Linked DNA regions of Homo sapiens: region 2 is linked to region 1. Evidence: fine-mapped expression QTL. Tissue or cell type: whole blood. Region 1 holds a variant in brackets; the other region holds the start of a gene. All regions are shown on one strand. Distances are between the middles of the regions.

What was found. PIP is the estimated chance that this variant, and not a neighbour inherited with it, causes the effect.
Region 2: SCN4A starts here. The variant in region 1 is the best candidate, but not a certain one, in a credible set for the expression of SCN4A in whole blood (TOPMed, PIP 0.67).

Annotation. Positions count from the first base shown.
Region 1 is chr17:63,942,474-63,950,647 of GRCh38, reverse strand. SCN4A (sodium voltage-gated channel alpha subunit 4) reads left to right here. Exons shown (of 24, transcript NM_000334.4): 15 at 1,120-1,255; 16 at 1,883-2,037; 17 at 2,585-2,758; 18 at 3,481-3,603; 19 at 5,010-5,288; 20 at 5,588-5,641; 21 at 5,838-5,975; 22 at 6,798-6,902; 23 at 7,552-7,822. Among named protein-coding and RNA genes, the nearest start is that of CD79B, 14 kb to the right of the region's middle. RefSeq lists enhancers at 788-1,367, 1,368-1,949, 3,587-4,160 and an insulator at 1-4,795. The variant G/A (reference allele first, on the strand shown) is at 3,705.
Region 2 is chr17:63,968,829-63,977,002 of GRCh38, reverse strand. SCN4A (sodium voltage-gated channel alpha subunit 4) reads left to right here and starts at 4,085. Exons shown (of 24, transcript NM_000334.4): 1 at 4,085-4,434; 2 at 4,533-4,651; 3 at 4,778-4,867; 4 at 5,153-5,281; 5 at 5,750-5,841. The coding sequence starts at 4,162.

The DNA of each region.
Region 1 (8,174 bases):
CACCCCTGCACCATCAGCCTGAGCCTAATGAACTTTGCCCTGAAAGCTTTTGACTCCTTATTCCCCCCAAATATGCTGGCTTACCAGGAAGCGAGTGCCTGTGAGCTATAAATACCCAGGCAACTGTGGCACAGACCTCGGTATGAGGCACTCAGGTGGCGGGGGAGCTGGAGAGCACCAAAGTCCCAGGCTCCCCGGGGCCGGGGCCGGGGCCTGGGGACTTGTTCAAGGAGGGCGAGCACAACTCCAAGGGAGATTTAGGGAGTTGAGTGCACAATCGGGGCAAGCAACTCAGTGGATGCCCTGGCTGACCTAACACTCTGTGCCTCAGTTTCCCTTTTAGTCTAATGAAAACAAGGACCCCCACCCCGGCCATGGTGGTTTTCTGGTCACCACTCTGGATACAGAGCTGCCCCCCAAGTTGCCCTCTTCTTCCTTCTCTTCAGAGGCCTCACCCTCAGCCTTGAAGGGGTCCCCTGCCGGGTGGAGTCTGGGGCCGGGAAGCTGGCCTGGCCCAGCAGGAGGAGGTGGGAGGAAGCCTGGCCCGGCTGGAGCACCCGCCTCCCCCACTCCCGCTCCCAACACTGATCAGGTTCCCTTGGCACTGGATGGAGGCTTTGGCTGGGGAACATTTTCCACCCTTTCTGGATTCCTCAGCCAAACAGACCCTGCGGGTGGGAAGGCTCAGACGCTAGGGGCACCACACGCCCATGTTCTGAGGGCTGTGATAGCCTGGCTCCATCCTGACCCCTTTTCATACCCCTGCCCCCTCAGAGCTACCTTCAGGCCCCCCATGCCTCCCAGACCCCCCACTCGGGCCGGGGTCCCCGCCTCCTCCCTTATCTGAGGCCTTCGCATGTGTCCTCATGCCCTTACCGTCCCTTCCCAGGCATCAGCCCCGCCCCACTCCTTATATAAGTGTCATGCGGGCATGACCAGGGCCACCTACGTCCCCGTGGTTCCTCGACCATCCAGGGCTGGATGAATGAATGAATGGATGAGTTTGCTCCTCCCTCTCTTCTTCCCTTCCCTTCTGGTCTCCCATCCTGCCCCATCTGGTAGGAGGATGAGGGGGTCTCTCAGGGACCCAGATGTCATGTGACCCTGTGGCCTCCGCAGAAGCCGCCGCAGCCTCTCTATGATGGGAACTCGTCCGTCTGCAGCACAGCTGACTACAAGCCCCCCGAGGAGGACCCTGAGGAGCAGGCAGAGGAGAACCCCGAGGGGGAGCAGCCTGAGGAGTGCTTCACTGAGGGTGAGGGCACCCCTCACCTCATCTGGGTGTCTCCCCCAGGCCTGCAGCCCCTGCAAGGGGCAGGCTACACCAGGACCAAAAGCACACGGACCTGGGGCTGCCTGGCCATCCCCGTGCCTCACGTGTCTAGGGGTGGTGGCAGTGCATGCCCAGAACTGTGGTGCAAGATCCATGCAGAGCCCTTGGTGCAGACCTAGCTTGGAGCCAACGTGCAGGAGTGTGGGTGTCAGCTCCTGAGATCCTCCCCTCCATCTTCAGGGAGCAAGGCCTTCAGGACATGGCACTGGAGAAATGTCCTTGTCCATAGAGCTTGCTGGGCTGTGCAGGATGGAGACCGCCTGGGCGAGGTGGGGGGTGGGGCAGCACTGGGGCTGGGGGCCAGGAGGCCTTTCCTCTGCATGCCCATCCCCAGCAGCCATTGACGCATGTTGGATCCAGCTGTGAAGGGAGGTCCTGAGTCCCCCATGTGAGCCAGATGGAGCTGGGTGAGGGAGGAGGTGGGGGCCCTGGGTCTGGGAGCTGGAGAGGGGCATCCTGGGATGCCATGGGAGGGCGCTGACTGTGCACCCCAAGGCAACCCCAGGCCCATGATGTGGTGCCTGTCCCTGTCCCCCCTCACCCCATCAGCCTGCGTGCAGCGCTGGCCCTGCCTCTACGTGGACATCTCCCAGGGCCGTGGGAAGAAGTGGTGGACTCTGCGCAGGGCCTGCTTCAAGATTGTCGAGCACAACTGGTTCGAGACCTTCATTGTCTTCATGATCCTGCTCAGCAGTGGGGCTCTGGTAGGCACTGCCTGGGAGCACGGGTCAGGGGCAGGGGCCAGGCCCACAGCAGGTCCTCTTGGGGCTCCCTGTCTCCACACACAGGAAGGGCCATGCTCTGGTCAGTCCCAAACCCTGAGAATCCTAAAGGAACTCGCTGTGCCTCCGGGATAGGTTATAGGATGTGCTGACTTTCTAACATGGCAGAGGTGCCTCCCTTATTACGTGGGTGCTGACTTTTGTGCACTCTCTGCTGATAAGGAGGCAGGAGACCCCTGGGAACTGGGGGCGCAGGACTGAAGATGTGTCACTGTGGACCTGCCCAGCAGATGATGGCAATTTGCTGTTGTTGGGCTTGGAGAAGGGGGGCTGAGGGATTCTCCCCACTGGGAAACGCTCTCATCCCCATGATGGGTGGTGGGAGTCCAGGAGATGCGGACAGCCTGTCCCTTGGGCTGGGCCCCCACGGCAGACCCCCGGGAACCAGCAGCATAGAGCAGGGCAGGGGACCTGGCTGCCACCCCAGCCTGCTGGACCCCAGCCACCCTGGTGGTGCTGGTGCCCCCAGGCCTTCGAGGACATCTACATTGAGCAGCGGCGAGTCATTCGCACCATCCTAGAATATGCCGACAAGGTCTTCACCTACATCTTCATCATGGAGATGCTGCTCAAATGGGTGGCCTACGGCTTTAAGGTGTACTTCACCAACGCCTGGTGCTGGCTCGACTTCCTCATCGTGGATGTGAGTCCCCCCACGCTGGCCCCGTAGCTACATCCAGAGGCTGTCAGTGTGGCGGGGACCTCAGGAAGCCCACGCCCTGAAGGGCAGGACCTGCCCGAGGCCACCCCCAGAGTCAGACCCTCAATCAGTGCTGCCCTTCTCAGACAGAGCTGCCCAGGGAGGGGTTAGGGACTGGGAGGCCTTCCCTTCTCCTCAGGGAAAGGAGGCCTTGGGGGAAGACAGCAGGCAGGAGGGCTACTTACCATCCCTGCCAATAGGAGTGGAGGAGTTTCTTACTTCATACATTTTATTTATTTATTTTTAAGATGGGATCTTGCTATGTTGCCCAGGCTGGTCTTGAACTCCTGGGCTCAAGCAATCCTCCTACCTTGGCCTCCCAAAGTGCTGGGATTACAGGTGTGAGCCACCATGCCCGGCCAGGAATGGAGGATTTTCTTAGCCTCTTAGATGGGCTCACAGGCCTCCCCGAAGGAGTCGGGTACCATCCCTCCTACTCACAGTCATCCCCAGTTGGTTGATGACATCACTGAGGTGGTGCCAGGCTCCTACAGGTACTGGGACAGGTCCCAGGGCTGCTCTTCCCACCGGACAGGACCACCCACTAGGGAGGGGATCTAAGGGAGACAACCAGGAGCTGTGAGTCCAGGAAGACCCCCGTGGCCTGGGCTTGAGGGGAGGCTGGGGGCCTTGCACGCACTGATCCCCTCACCCCTCCCCTGCAGGTCTCCATCATCAGCTTGGTGGCCAACTGGCTGGGCTACTCGGAGCTGGGACCCATCAAATCCCTGCGGACACTGCGGGCCCTGCGTCCCCTGAGGGCACTGTCCCGATTCGAGGGCATGAGGGTGGGTGCTGAAGGGGCCTCTGGGGTGGGCTGGGGATGGGGGACCGGCCACCTTCACTGCAGGGTGGAGGGTGCATGTCTATACTCCAACCACCACCAGAG[G/A]GAAGCAGAGAGCTTGGACCCACGGCCCTGCCTGAGGCCAGGTCTGGCCCCCACCTCCCCTAGCTGTCCTCCCCGCAGGCCATCTTCTGCCTGCCCCATTCCCACTCTCAGCCCCCGATCCAGCCCGCCCTTAGCTTACCTCTGCCACTACTTGAGGGGAGCAGAGACTGCAGAAGCACCCAGGAGGGCCCCACGGCCAGGGAAGAGGAGGAAGGAAGGCAGGTTTATGTGGTGTTTATGGGTGGTTTATGAGTGGGTTTATGGGTGGCCCTCCCCAGCCTCAGACTGAGCCACCCAGGGCTTTGAAACAAGGTGCCTGCACCCTGGCTCTGAGCCTTCCCCTCACCCCCCACTGATGAGCTTGGCGTCACGGTTGGGGCCATGCCCTTGAGCTTGGGGTCAGTTTGGGGAAGATCCACTCAGGCCCTGGAGAGCGGAAGTGGCAGGTAAACACAGGGTTGCGGCGGGGTGGGGGGGGGGGCAAGAAAAATGGGACTTCCCCAGGAAGAGAGATCTGCTGGGAGCAAGACCTGCTCCAGCGGGACAAATTTCTGCAAATCTAGAGGCCATGGCGAGCCCCCCCAAGCGGCCCCTTCCTGTCCCTGCAAGAGGCCAGCCGAATGCTGGGCCCTCTGACCCCCCAGAGCCAGGGAGCCCTCCCGTTGAGGGGAAACAAGCTGCCTGTGGCCATGCAGCTGGTCAGTGCCCCAACCAGGAACAGAGCTCCCCTGGGCACACCAGGCTTGTGCCACCCACTCTAGAGGTCATGAAATGGCTCCTCCTTAAAAAGAGAGGGGTGTCAGATCCAGCCCAGTCTGCAGTGGTCAGGTGGGCTGTGTGACTAGGGCTGGTGGGGATGGGGCTTCTGTCCCAGAGCTCCTGCTGCTTCAAAGACCCTGGTGCCCTCTTTTCTGTGCCTGTGTCTGGGGCTCTGGGGCTGAAAACCCATGAGCAGGGGCTGGGTCACGTGAGCTGAGTTTCCTATGGGGGCTGAGCAAAGAGTGTTTGTCTCCTGCCTGGTGACCTGTGACCAGGCTGCTTCCAGAGAAACCCAGCACCCCTACTCTGGGCTGATGGCTCCAGTCAAGCAGAGAGCCCTCTTGACCACCAGGCCTGCAGCTCCCTCCCCCTCCCCCTTACCACCCCCAACCTGCACACACACAGCCCAGCAGGTCGGCCCTCCTCTAGGAAGCCCTCCCTAATTGACAATGCCCAGCTCTGCCTGGTCCCCTGGGTGGCGTAGAGATGTGGAGCCCTCTCTCAGAGGCTGGGAGAGGCACTGGCAATGGACCCCCTGGCCCCCAGGTGGTGGTGAACGCCCTCCTAGGCGCCATCCCCTCCATCATGAATGTGCTGCTTGTCTGCCTCATCTTCTGGCTGATCTTCAGCATCATGGGTGTCAACCTGTTTGCCGGCAAGTTCTACTACTGCATCAACACCACCACCTCTGAGAGGTTCGACATCTCCGAGGTCAACAACAAGTCTGAGTGCGAGAGCCTCATGCACACAGGCCAGGTCCGCTGGCTCAATGTCAAGGTCAACTACGACAACGTGGGTCTGGGCTACCTCTCCCTCCTGCAGGTGGTGAGTGTGACCCACCACCCCTGCCGGGAACCTGGATGGAGGTGCCCCCCACCCCGGTCCTCTCGTTGTACCCAACCCCAGTGTCACTCCTGGTTAGGGGACCGCCCACCCTGCTTCCAATGCTGTGGGATCCCCAGGCAGTGTCTAGACCTCTCTGGTCTTTATTTGATGCTAGCCCAGTGGGGCTCTGGCAGGCGGCCTCTGGCAGGGGAGGACCAGGTTGGGTGGGGGAGGGAAACTCATGGATGATGAAAGCAGGGAGCAGCCCCCCGGCTCACTCCCCAACCACACTCTCTCAGGCCACCTTCAAGGGTTGGATGGACATCATGTATGCAGCCGTGGACTCCCGGGAGGTGAGTCGGGGTCGCTGAGATGTGGCTGGTGAGCGAGCCAGGGAAGAGGACTCAAGACAGGAGGGAGACTTGGCAGCACGTTCTGTCCCCGAGACTTGGCAGCCCTGGGGGTGGATGGGTCCTGCCCTCAGGGCTGTGGGGGGCAGGGAGAAGCCAGCGTGCAAACCCACGCCGTCCCACCCTGTGGCTCCCACAGAAGGAGGAGCAGCCGCAGTACGAGGTGAACCTCTACATGTACCTCTACTTTGTCATCTTCATCATCTTTGGCTCCTTCTTCACCCTCAACCTCTTCATTGGCGTCATCATTGACAACTTCAACCAGCAGAAGAAGAAGATGAGTATCAGCCCAGCCCCTCGGGCCCTCCCGGTGCTGGGCCTCCCTCCTGCCTCCTTTGTCCACTCTCCATTGCACAAACCCACAAACGCTGCCTGAGCACCTACCAGGTTGTTGGTTCAGGCAGCTAGCTTGGGTCCCAGTCCCACCAGGCCACCTTGAACAAGTGGCTTGGCCTCCATGAACCTCGGTGTCCTTATCTGTAAAATGAGACTGCTGGGCCAGGCACGGTGGCTCATGCTTGTAATCCCAGCACTTTGGGAGGCCGAGGCGGGCGGATCACAAGGTCAGGAGTTCGAGACCACCCTGGCTAACGTGGTAAAACCCTGTCTATACTAAAAATACAAAAAAAATTAAAAAAAGAAATTAGCCAGGCGTGGTGGCAGGCATCTGTAATCCCAGCTACTCAGGAGGCTGAGGCAGGAGAATCGCTTAAACCCAGGAGATGGAGGTTGCAGTGGGCCAAGATCGCGCCACTGCACTCCAGCCTGGTGACAGAGCGAGACTCCATCTCAACAACAAAAAAAAAGACGAGGCTGCTACAACCTGCCTTGTGGGTTACTCTAGGGCTCAGCGAGATGTTGATGAAAAGTAGCCAGAAACAGGCTGCAAGACAGCATTGATCCCCACTCCCCTTCCCTCCCTTCTCCTCGGTCCCGCATTCTCCCCTTGTCCCTCCATCTCTGACCCTCCCGCTTCCTCCAGGCTGATCAACAGGGGCGGGGGCTGCCTTAAAGGTGAGGTGCCCCACTGAGGTGGGGGTGGTCCTGGAGGCAGGAAGGGGAACTGCACCTCAACCTGACAAGCCCTATCCCACTATACTTAGGGGGGAAAGACATCTTTATGACGGAGGAACAGAAGAAATACTATAACGCCATGAAGAAGCTTGGCTCCAAGAAGCCTCAGAAGCCAATTCCCCGGCCCCAGGTACAGACCTCTGGGCCCCCTGTCCTGTGTGTGCTGCCAGGCTCCTGCCTAGGGGACTGATGGGGGTAAAAGGTTTCCTGCCTTCCACCCACCAGGCTGTGTCCCTGGGTGAGGTTAGGCCCACCCCAGGGGCAGGGGACTTGGTCTACCTGCAGGGAGGGACGCCTCTTTGTAGTGCCACAGAGACACCATATGCACAGAGGCTGTCCATGAAACTCTAGTGAGTGCTTTACCCTCACTTGGTCCCACGAAGCTCCTCAGTGCCCACCTACCTCCCACCTGGGACCCCAGTGGCCCCTGGGGCAAGGGCTCCCACAAGTGGAAGGAGGAGGATGTCCAGACACCCTACCCAGGAGCAATGACTTTGGAAGAAAGGGGAGGAGCATCTGGGGGATCTTGAAGGGAGGACCATGAACCCCATAAAATGACCTGGTCCCAGACCTGTCATGATCTGATGGGTCACCCCTCCTCCCCTGGCTGACTCCACCACAACCCCCAACACCTCCTTTCTCTCTCTCTCTCTCTCTCTCTCTGTCATCTCTGTCATCTCTGTCATGCTGTGGTGCCATCCTGTGCCTCCTGCCTGTCCATGTCCTGTCTGGGCCTGGCCACCCCAACTCCTCCACATCCACTCCCACCCATGCTGCAGAACAAGATCCAGGGCATGGTGTATGACCTCGTGACGAAGCAGGCCTTCGACATCACCATCATGATCCTCATCTGCCTCAACATGGTCACCATGATGGTGGAGACAGACAACCAGAGCCAGCTCAAGGTGGACATCCTGTACAACATCAACATGATCTTCATCATCATCTTCACAGGGGAGTGCGTGCTCAAGATGCTCGCCCTGCGCCAGTACTACTTCACCGTTGGCTGGAACATCTTTGACTTCGTGGTCGTCATCCTGTCCATTGTGGGTGAGCGGGGCGGGCTGGACCGGCAGGGCAGCACTGAGCTGAGGCACTCGGGAAGACCCATCCTCACACGGACACACCTGCCCCTGCACCCTCACACGCTCACCCAGACACATGCCTGTGCGTGCCTGCCATTCACTCTCAATGCACAAAGGCACATGGTGTGCACACAGGCAGATCGTCACCCGCGCACACATGGATGCACCTCAGGACACACAACTGACCAGAAGACGTGCACTCAGGTGCCCACATACTGAGCGAAAAGTGTAAAAGATGGTTCCATGTCTGTGTGCACTGAGAAGTGCACAGTCATGCGTGTGCTTATGATAGAAAGTAGCTGCCATTTATTATCAAC
Region 2 (8,174 bases), 26 kb before region 1:
CAACTGGGCTGCATGCTTCTGAGAGGCTCTGGGAGCTGAGGACAGAAGCGTGTTCACTGGACTTGGCAGCAGGGAGGGTGTTAGTGACTTGACAAAAGTAGTTTCAGTTGAAGGGGAAACGGAAGCCAGGTTGGAATGGATTGGAGAGAGAATGAAAGGTAAGGAAGTCAAGACAGCTGGTGTAGACACTTTCCAAGAAGTTTTACTGTGAAGAGGAAAGAAAAATAGGGCAATAGATGCAGGGAGGTGTGGGGCCAGGAGAATAGTTTTGTCACCACTGCCATTGTTTTTAAAGTGGGGGACACTAGAGTCTGTTCACAGATGGGGAGAGGTGGATGGGCAGTAGAGAGAGGGCACCTGGAGAGGTCTTTGAGAAGCAAGAGGGGCTGGGGTCCTGAGCCCCAGGAAAGCCTGACCCTTGCTTCTTATTATTATTCTAACAGGATAGAGGAAGACGGGGTGGGATGGGGAGATGGTTCTGTGGATTTGACAGTGTGTGTGTAGTGGTTCTTCCTTCCTCAGGGAAGACCATCAGCTGGGAGGCTCATGGGGAGGAGCGCGGAGGTCTGAGGAAAGAGGAGAAGGCATGAAATAGTTGTTTTCAAAAAGTGGAAAAGTGAGCCTACCAGAAAAATCCACACTACAGGGCTGGCAGGATTGAGGACAAACCCAGAATATGTGACCATGAATTTACGGTGAGCTCAGCCTAGTCATACCATTTCCCCAGCCACATTTCTCCAGCTCGGGGCTGACTTTGGAAAACCAGAGCTGGGGACATGCAGTTAGGGGTTCCCCAGGACTGTGTGATAGAAGGAGAGAGATCCCTCCTTCTGGGATCTCTCCCTGGGAGCTGTGGAGGAGGGACCAGAATGATGATCTTCTAAGTAAGCCTAGATGAGGAGGGACATGAAGTCAGAAGCAGGTGGAAAGGGAGAAAGTGCAGGGTCAAAGAACTGAAAGTGCCCAAAGATTATAGCAACCGGGCCCCTGAGCCAGGAGCTGAGAAGGTGGCAGGGGCAAAGGAAGAGTTTGAAGTGGTGATTTCAGAGGAGATATGGTTTCTGGTTATGATTTAGGTTCAGGGTATGCTTAAAGGAGAAAAGAGCTAAGGTAGAGTGTCCCTGTGATTCACTCACTTATTCATTTGATAAACTTTTATTGAGCTGGTGACACAAACAAGGGGAGAGTTCCACCCAGCCAGGGTACCCAGGGAGGGCTTCCTGGAGGAGGTGGTTCTTGTGTGGGTTGAGTCTAGAAAGATGAATGGAAGCTCTCCAGGGAGACAAAGAAGATGGGTGCTCTGGGAGGAGAGCAAACCACAAGCAAAGGCATGGGGGTTAGGGCAGGGGGGTGGAAAACAGCTTGGCCCATTTGTGAAAATGGAGGTAGCATGGCCAGAGGATGCGGGAAGGGTAGGCAATGAGGCAGGGATCTGATCATGGAGGGCCTTGGGAGCCCTGGGTAGGGCTTAGGACGTACTCCTAAGCAGTGGAAAGCCATTGAAGATTTAAGCAGGGGGTGAAATTTGTGACTTTACAAATATTTATGGCAGTCTAGGGGAGAGCCTGGTGGGAGGTGTTTCTTTGGTTGGTTTTTGAGACAGGGTCTCACTCTGTCACCCAGGCTGGAGGACAGTGGCACCATCATGGCTCACTGCAGCCTCGAACTCCTGAGCTTAAGGGATCCTCCTGCCTTCGTAGCTGGGACTACAGGAGCATGTCACCACGCGGGGAGGTTATTTGAACAGAACAGGTGAGGGGTGGAGGGTGGAGAGGGCAGTGACACTGGAGAGGGAGCATCAGTAGGGTGTGGAACTGGCCAGATCTACCACCATGATGCTTCGGGCAGCCACCAACCAAAGCCAGCTTCAGCAAGTGGAACCAGTGAGGACATTCCTCCCCTCACATTACAAAACAGCCAGACCTCAGGGGTAATGGAGGAGTAGGAGAAGAGGAAATTAGGAGGAAGTGAACATTTTGAAGGGAGAGGTGTACGCTGTGCAAAGAAAACAGGCTGCAGAGCAGGCCCCAGAGAAGAAGCATCTTCCAGGGGCAGGGAAGGGGCAGGTCCCAGAGCAGAGCTGGGGAGAGTGGCCGGACGCACAGGTGATGTCCTGCTCCCAAGAAGAAAGGCGGTGTGCGGTGTGGGAAGCTCAGGAGGGCCAGCGGGGAAGAAAACACTGGATCTGTCCCCTGGGGAGCTCTGGTGACTCAGGTGAGAGTCATTTCCTCGAGTGCTGGGGTTGGGAGCCAGACTATGTGTCTGTGGGCTTTTGTGGCCCTACTTGGGCTCGTGTAATGAAAAGAGTGAGCAGTATCAGGACAGGAGGATCATCACAGCAGGGACTGCAGACTGGGTGGGTGCACAGCAGCCCTGGGGTCTCTTCAAGGCCATCTGGCTGGTTGGCGCCTTCTGTGTAGTGACAAGCAGCATGTGGGGGTGTACGTGGAGTGGGTGATGGGGAGGAAGGTGGCAAGGTATATGACAGAGCTGTGAGATGCAACTGGGAAGGTCTGCATGTGGGGTGGCTCCAGGCCGGGTGTGCGTGCATGTGCCTGTGTGTGCAAGTGTGTGCACATGCACGCCCACGCTCACGACAGGGGCCAGTGAGCAGCTGAGGGCAGGGTTGGCAGGAATAAGCAGAGTCATCCCCGTGGAAACACGACTCCCTGGGTGCTGTAAGGAGCAGCTGGGAGCCAGGCACAAGGGCGTGGCCAGCTCTGCCCAGTGGCTCTGGCCTCTCCCTGGCCACCCTCCCCACCTGTTGAGCAAGCCTGAGAAGCGCCCGTGCTGACCAGGGCAGGGGCGCTGCTGCAAGGGTCAAGGCCCACTGGGAGAGGTCCACCCTCAGGTGTGGCTTTGGGGGTCTCTAGGGGTCTGTCCAGGTCCCTGTGGTGCAGGGGTGGCTCCAGGTCTGTCCATGTGGGTCTGGCAGTGGCTGCCTGCAGCTGGTCTGCAGGGGTCTCACTGCAACTGCCTGCTGATGTGGTCATTCCCCCAGGGCCATTTGCAATAAGTGATCCCCCTTCCCTTCCACAGGAATAGGCTCTGGAGGGCTGGGCAGAAGGGGAGAGGGGCCAGGTGGGGCCCAGACCACACAATGCTCACAGGCATCAAAGGCTCCTTGTGGATGCCCCTTCCCCCAATCCAGCTTGTGCTGGGACCACCAGCCAAAAGCAGTCCCCAGGAGCTCTAGCCCTGCCCCCACCATTGGAGTTGTCCATCTCCTTGTCCCTGTGACCTTCCCTGTACGTCTTCTCTTCCACGTTAGCACCTGCAGCTCTCCAGATGCAATGTTCCTCTCCCAGTTCACCCTGCCTGCCCAGTGGGCTAGAGCCCCCAGGGCTGTGGGAGGGAACTGCTAGGAGACCCCTGCCGGGCCCAGGGCCCTTTCTTCTTCCCTCTCCCAGCCCAACACCAAGTACCCCAAAGATCAGGAAAGAGGAATCCACACCCACCCCCATCTTTCTTTTCCCTTCCCTCCAGGCCAGGGATGGCAAACACAGGCAGAGGCACCACGGTCTTCCTCCTTGCGCCCCTGGCAGACATCACTAATCAATCACAGCAACCTTTTTGCACAGAGCCTGGCTGCCACCTTCATGGTCTCCACCTACATCTCCAGGTGGCCAATATCAGGATCCACGTCGGCCCTCAGGGTGAAGTCCCTGTGCCAGTCCCACTTTGATCTAACCCCCCAACCAGGCCCCTCATCCTGGCCTATCCAGAGGTCGCCTGAGCACAGCCAGCTGTGGTTCTCTCTCTGTCCCATTAGGCTGAAGCCACACAGTTCCCGGAGCTTGGGCCCAGGAGGCAGTCGAAGGCACTGGGGTGTTGACCCCAAGTCCCAAGGCCACAAAGAATCTGGTTGGTTTGCCGTCGGTCCTGAGGGCAGCCGCTGCCACTTCTGGGGAAAGTGTGGTGGGGGGGCCAGGGGTGATGCTCTGTGCCCAGCACCTGTGCAGCAGCAGCACCTTGCAGGCACATCTCCCAGTCCTGATAGAGTCTGCACGCCCACCTCCCCGGCTCGGCCACTGGGCAAGCAGGAGGTGAGGAGTGGACGGCCCGCCCAGGGAGGGGCGGCCGCCCAGCACCCCGGGGCTGCGCACTGCAGCTCCCCAGGCCACCCACCACCCTTCTGGTCTCTGAGCCCAGGATGCGAGGATGGCCAGACCATCTCTGTGCACCCTGGTGCCTCTGGGCCCTGAGTGCTTGCGCCCCTTCACCCGGGAGTCACTGGCAGCCATAGAACAGCGGGCGGTGGAGGAGGAGGCCCGGCTGCAGCGGAATAAGCAGATGGAGATTGAGGAGCCCGAACGGAAGCCACGAAGTGACTTGGAGGCTGGCAAGAACCTACCCATGATCTACGGAGACCCCCCGCCGGAGGTCATCGGCATCCCCCTGGAGGACCTGGATCCCTACTACAGCAATAAGAAGGTCTGGGCCTGGGAAGGCTTCCTCTGTCTGTCTGCCATCCATCCATCTGTCTGCCTGTCTGTCTGTCCCTGGGTCTCACAGCCTCTCTCCCACCTTAGACCTTCATCGTACTCAACAAGGGCAAGGCCATCTTCCGCTTCTCCGCCACACCTGCTCTCTACCTGCTGAGCCCCTTCAGCGTAGTCAGGCGCGGGGCCATCAAGGTGCTCATCCATGCATATCCTGCCCAAGATGGGAGAGGCGGGAGGGGTTAGGGATGGGCGAGATGGGGTGCTGTGGCCCAGGAGACCCTCTATCACCTCCCATCCTAGCTGCTTCCTCACTTTCCTTGACCCTGCCCCACGCTGTTCAGCATGTTCATCATGATCACCATCTTGACCAACTGCGTATTCATGACCATGAGTGACCCGCCTCCCTGGTCCAAGAATGTGGAGTAAGTCTCCCTGCTCCCTGAGCTCCCCAGCCCTGGGACACAGCCCATCTCAGGTGTTTGCACCTCTGTGTGGTGCTGCTCTTGTCTTTCAGGGAGACACACTGTCATTGTGACCCTCATCCACACCTTGAGTCCCTGGGGTGGCCATGCTATCACTCGCTAGTGTCCTTAGCCACCTGAGTGGCATATTTCATTTCTGTGTCCCTCCCTTCTGGGGGTCTGTCGTTGCCACACTGACCCCTACCCAGGTGACATGCCTGTCCCGGCCGGCCCTCTCCCCCCCAGGTACACCTTCACAGGGATCTACACCTTTGAGTCCCTCATCAAGATACTGGCCCGAGGCTTCTGTGTCGACGACTTCACATTCCTCCGGGACCCCTGGAACTGGCTGGACTTCAGTGTCATCATGATGGCGTGAGCAGGGGCCCCAGGACATCCTGAGGCTGGGGTGGGTGAGGGGAGGGGGCCAGGCCTTAAAGAGGGAAGCTGCCTGGGCTGAGGGCTGCAGGGGACATCGGTCAGTTGTGCAGATGGGGAGCTGCACAATTCTAGAAGCTGCCATTCTCAGGGTCTGGCTCAGCACTCTCCTGATGGACTCCTGATAATCACATGAGGCAGCCCTGACCCACAGACCCATGGGTCCTCACCTGCTGGGTGAGCCGGGCTATCTTTGCCATCCCCACTCCCCCAGAGCTCCTGCACTGTCCTTCCCAACCCTTGGGCTCCCAGAGGAGCTTTGGGGGTGTCTGCCCTGCCCCCCAGACCCTGTGGTACCCCCAATTTCTTGGGAATCCTCATCCCAGGCCTGGAGGAGCCCTGATTTCTGTCCTACCACCCACCCCAGGCTCTGACAGTCCCCACCCCCCTCCACCCCCTACCCAGGTACCTGACAGAGTTTGTGGACTTGGGCAACATCTCAGCCCTGAGGACCTTCCGGGTGCTGCGGGCCCTCAAAACCATCACGGTCATCCCAGGTACTGGGGAGGTGCAGGGACCCTCTGCCTGAGCTGAGAGACCCCCGTACCATGTGCAGGCCTGGAACCTGACTCAGTGTCACAACACTCCCAGGCTGGTGTTTTTGTAGAACTCACAGCAAAGCCTGGACATACAGGGGCCCACGTGACCAGAGGGCAGATGGGGTCCTACATGGAAGGATGGGCGTTTGAGAGGCAGCATGGCAAGTTGGTTAAGAGCACAGACTCAGCTGGGCATGGTGGCTCACGCCTATAATCCCAGCACTTTGGGAGGCCAAGGCAAGTGGATCAACTAAGGTCAGGAGTTTGAGACCAGCCTGGCCAACAAGACAAAACCCTGTCTCTACTAAAAATACAAAAATTAGCCTGGCATGGTGGTGTGCACCTGTAGTCCCATCTACTCAGGAGGCTGAGGCAGGAGAATCACTTGAACCTGGGAAACAGAGGTGGCAGTCAGCCGAGATCACGCCACTGCACTCCAGCCTAGGCAACACAGTGAGATTCCATCTCAAAAAAAAAAAAGAAAACAAATTAGCTGGGCCTGGTTATGCTCTCCTATAGTCCCAGCTACTTGGGAGGCTAAGGCGGGAGGATAGTTTGAGCCCAGGAGATCAAGCCTGCTATGAGCTGTAATTTTGCCACTGCACTCCAGCCTGGGAAAAAGAACAAGACTCTGTCTCAAAAGAAAAAAGCACAGATTCTGGAGCCTGACTGCCTGGGTTCAATTCTCACCTTTACCACTTCCTAACTTTAACTTTGGGCAAGTGCCTCGCCCTGTCCATGTCTCAGTTTCCTTATCTGTGGCATATGGAGACTCATAGTACCACTCCTTGGATTGTTGTAAGGATTAAATGCCTTAATATCTGTAAGGCCCTCACAGCCCCTGGCCCATGGTTTGTGATATACACGTGTGTGCTCAATAAAATAAGCAGACAGAGCAGAGAAGAGAGAGACACAAAAAGGCTCCATGAGGAAAAGTCCAAGCTCTGAGAGCTCAATTAGGAACACACCAGGCACCTGCTGAGCAATAAGGTCAGAGCAATTCCAAAGTAATGCATCAACAAGCATGAAATCAATAGAATCCGAACATTCAGACCTGCAAAAGAGCATGTGGAGAAACTGGAGATTCTCTCCCAGTAAAGGAGAGAAAGAAAAAGGATAGAGATCAGGCTCTGGGAAGAGGGAAAATTGTTAAATCCTAATATGAGAAAGTACCTGAGGCCAGGTGTGGTGGCCCATACCTGTAATCCCAGCACTTTGGGAGGCCGAGACAGGTGAATCACTTGGGGTCAGGACTCTGAGACCAGCCTGGCCAACGTGGTGAAACCCCGTCTCTACTCAAAATACAAAAATTAGCTGGGCGTGGTGGCATGTGCCTGTAATCCCAGCTACCTGGGAGGCTGAGCAGGAGAATCACTTGAATCGAGGAGGCAGAAGTTGCAGTGAGCCGAGATCACACCACTGCACTCCAGCCTGGGCGACAGAGCGAGACTCTATCTCAAAAAAAAAAGAAAAGAAAAGAAAAGAAAGTAAGAAAGAAAGTACCTGAGCTATCTTCTAGTCTAAAGCCCTCTGACTGCAGCCGAGGAAGGTGTGAGACCCAGGAGAGGAAGCACTTCCCAAATTCCACACTGTACATTGGCCACTGAGCCAAGACGGCATTGCCTTTCCTCTGTGCCAGCTGCCAGCATCCTCGGGGCGCAGGAGGGCTTTTATAAGGAGGCTGCCGAGCATTTGTTTTCCATATCAGGATAAGAAAAGGAAATGAAGTCATATTAACGCAAGAGGCACTACGATTAGGCCCAAGGAAGAAGTTACGGCTCTTCCACAGGTGATGGGAACCTGCCCCTGGGATTATTTCAGCATCGTTTATGCCTTTGTCTGTCTAAAGAATATAATGATGTTTCAAGTTCAGTCTAGAGCTTCTGCTGTTCCTCGGGTGCTACTAGGCATTTTAAGGAAAAGGGTTCTGTGGTCAAATATGTTAAGGATACGTGGGATTAAAGTTTTTGTTTAATAGGCCAGGTGAGGTGGCTCATGCCTGTAATCCCAGCATTTTGGGAGGCTGAGGCAGGCTGATTACTTGAGGCCAGGAGTTCGAGACCAGCCTGTCCAACATAGCGAAACCTCATCCCTACTAAAAGTACCAAAAAAATGAGCTGGGTGTGGTGGCATGCACCTGTAATCCCAGCTACTTGGGAGGCTGAGGCAGGAGAATCACTTGAACCCAGGAGGCAGAGGTTGCAGTGAGCCAAGATCACGCCACTGCATTCCAGCCTGGGTGACAGAATGAGACTCTCTCTAAATAAATACATAAATACAAATAAAGTTTT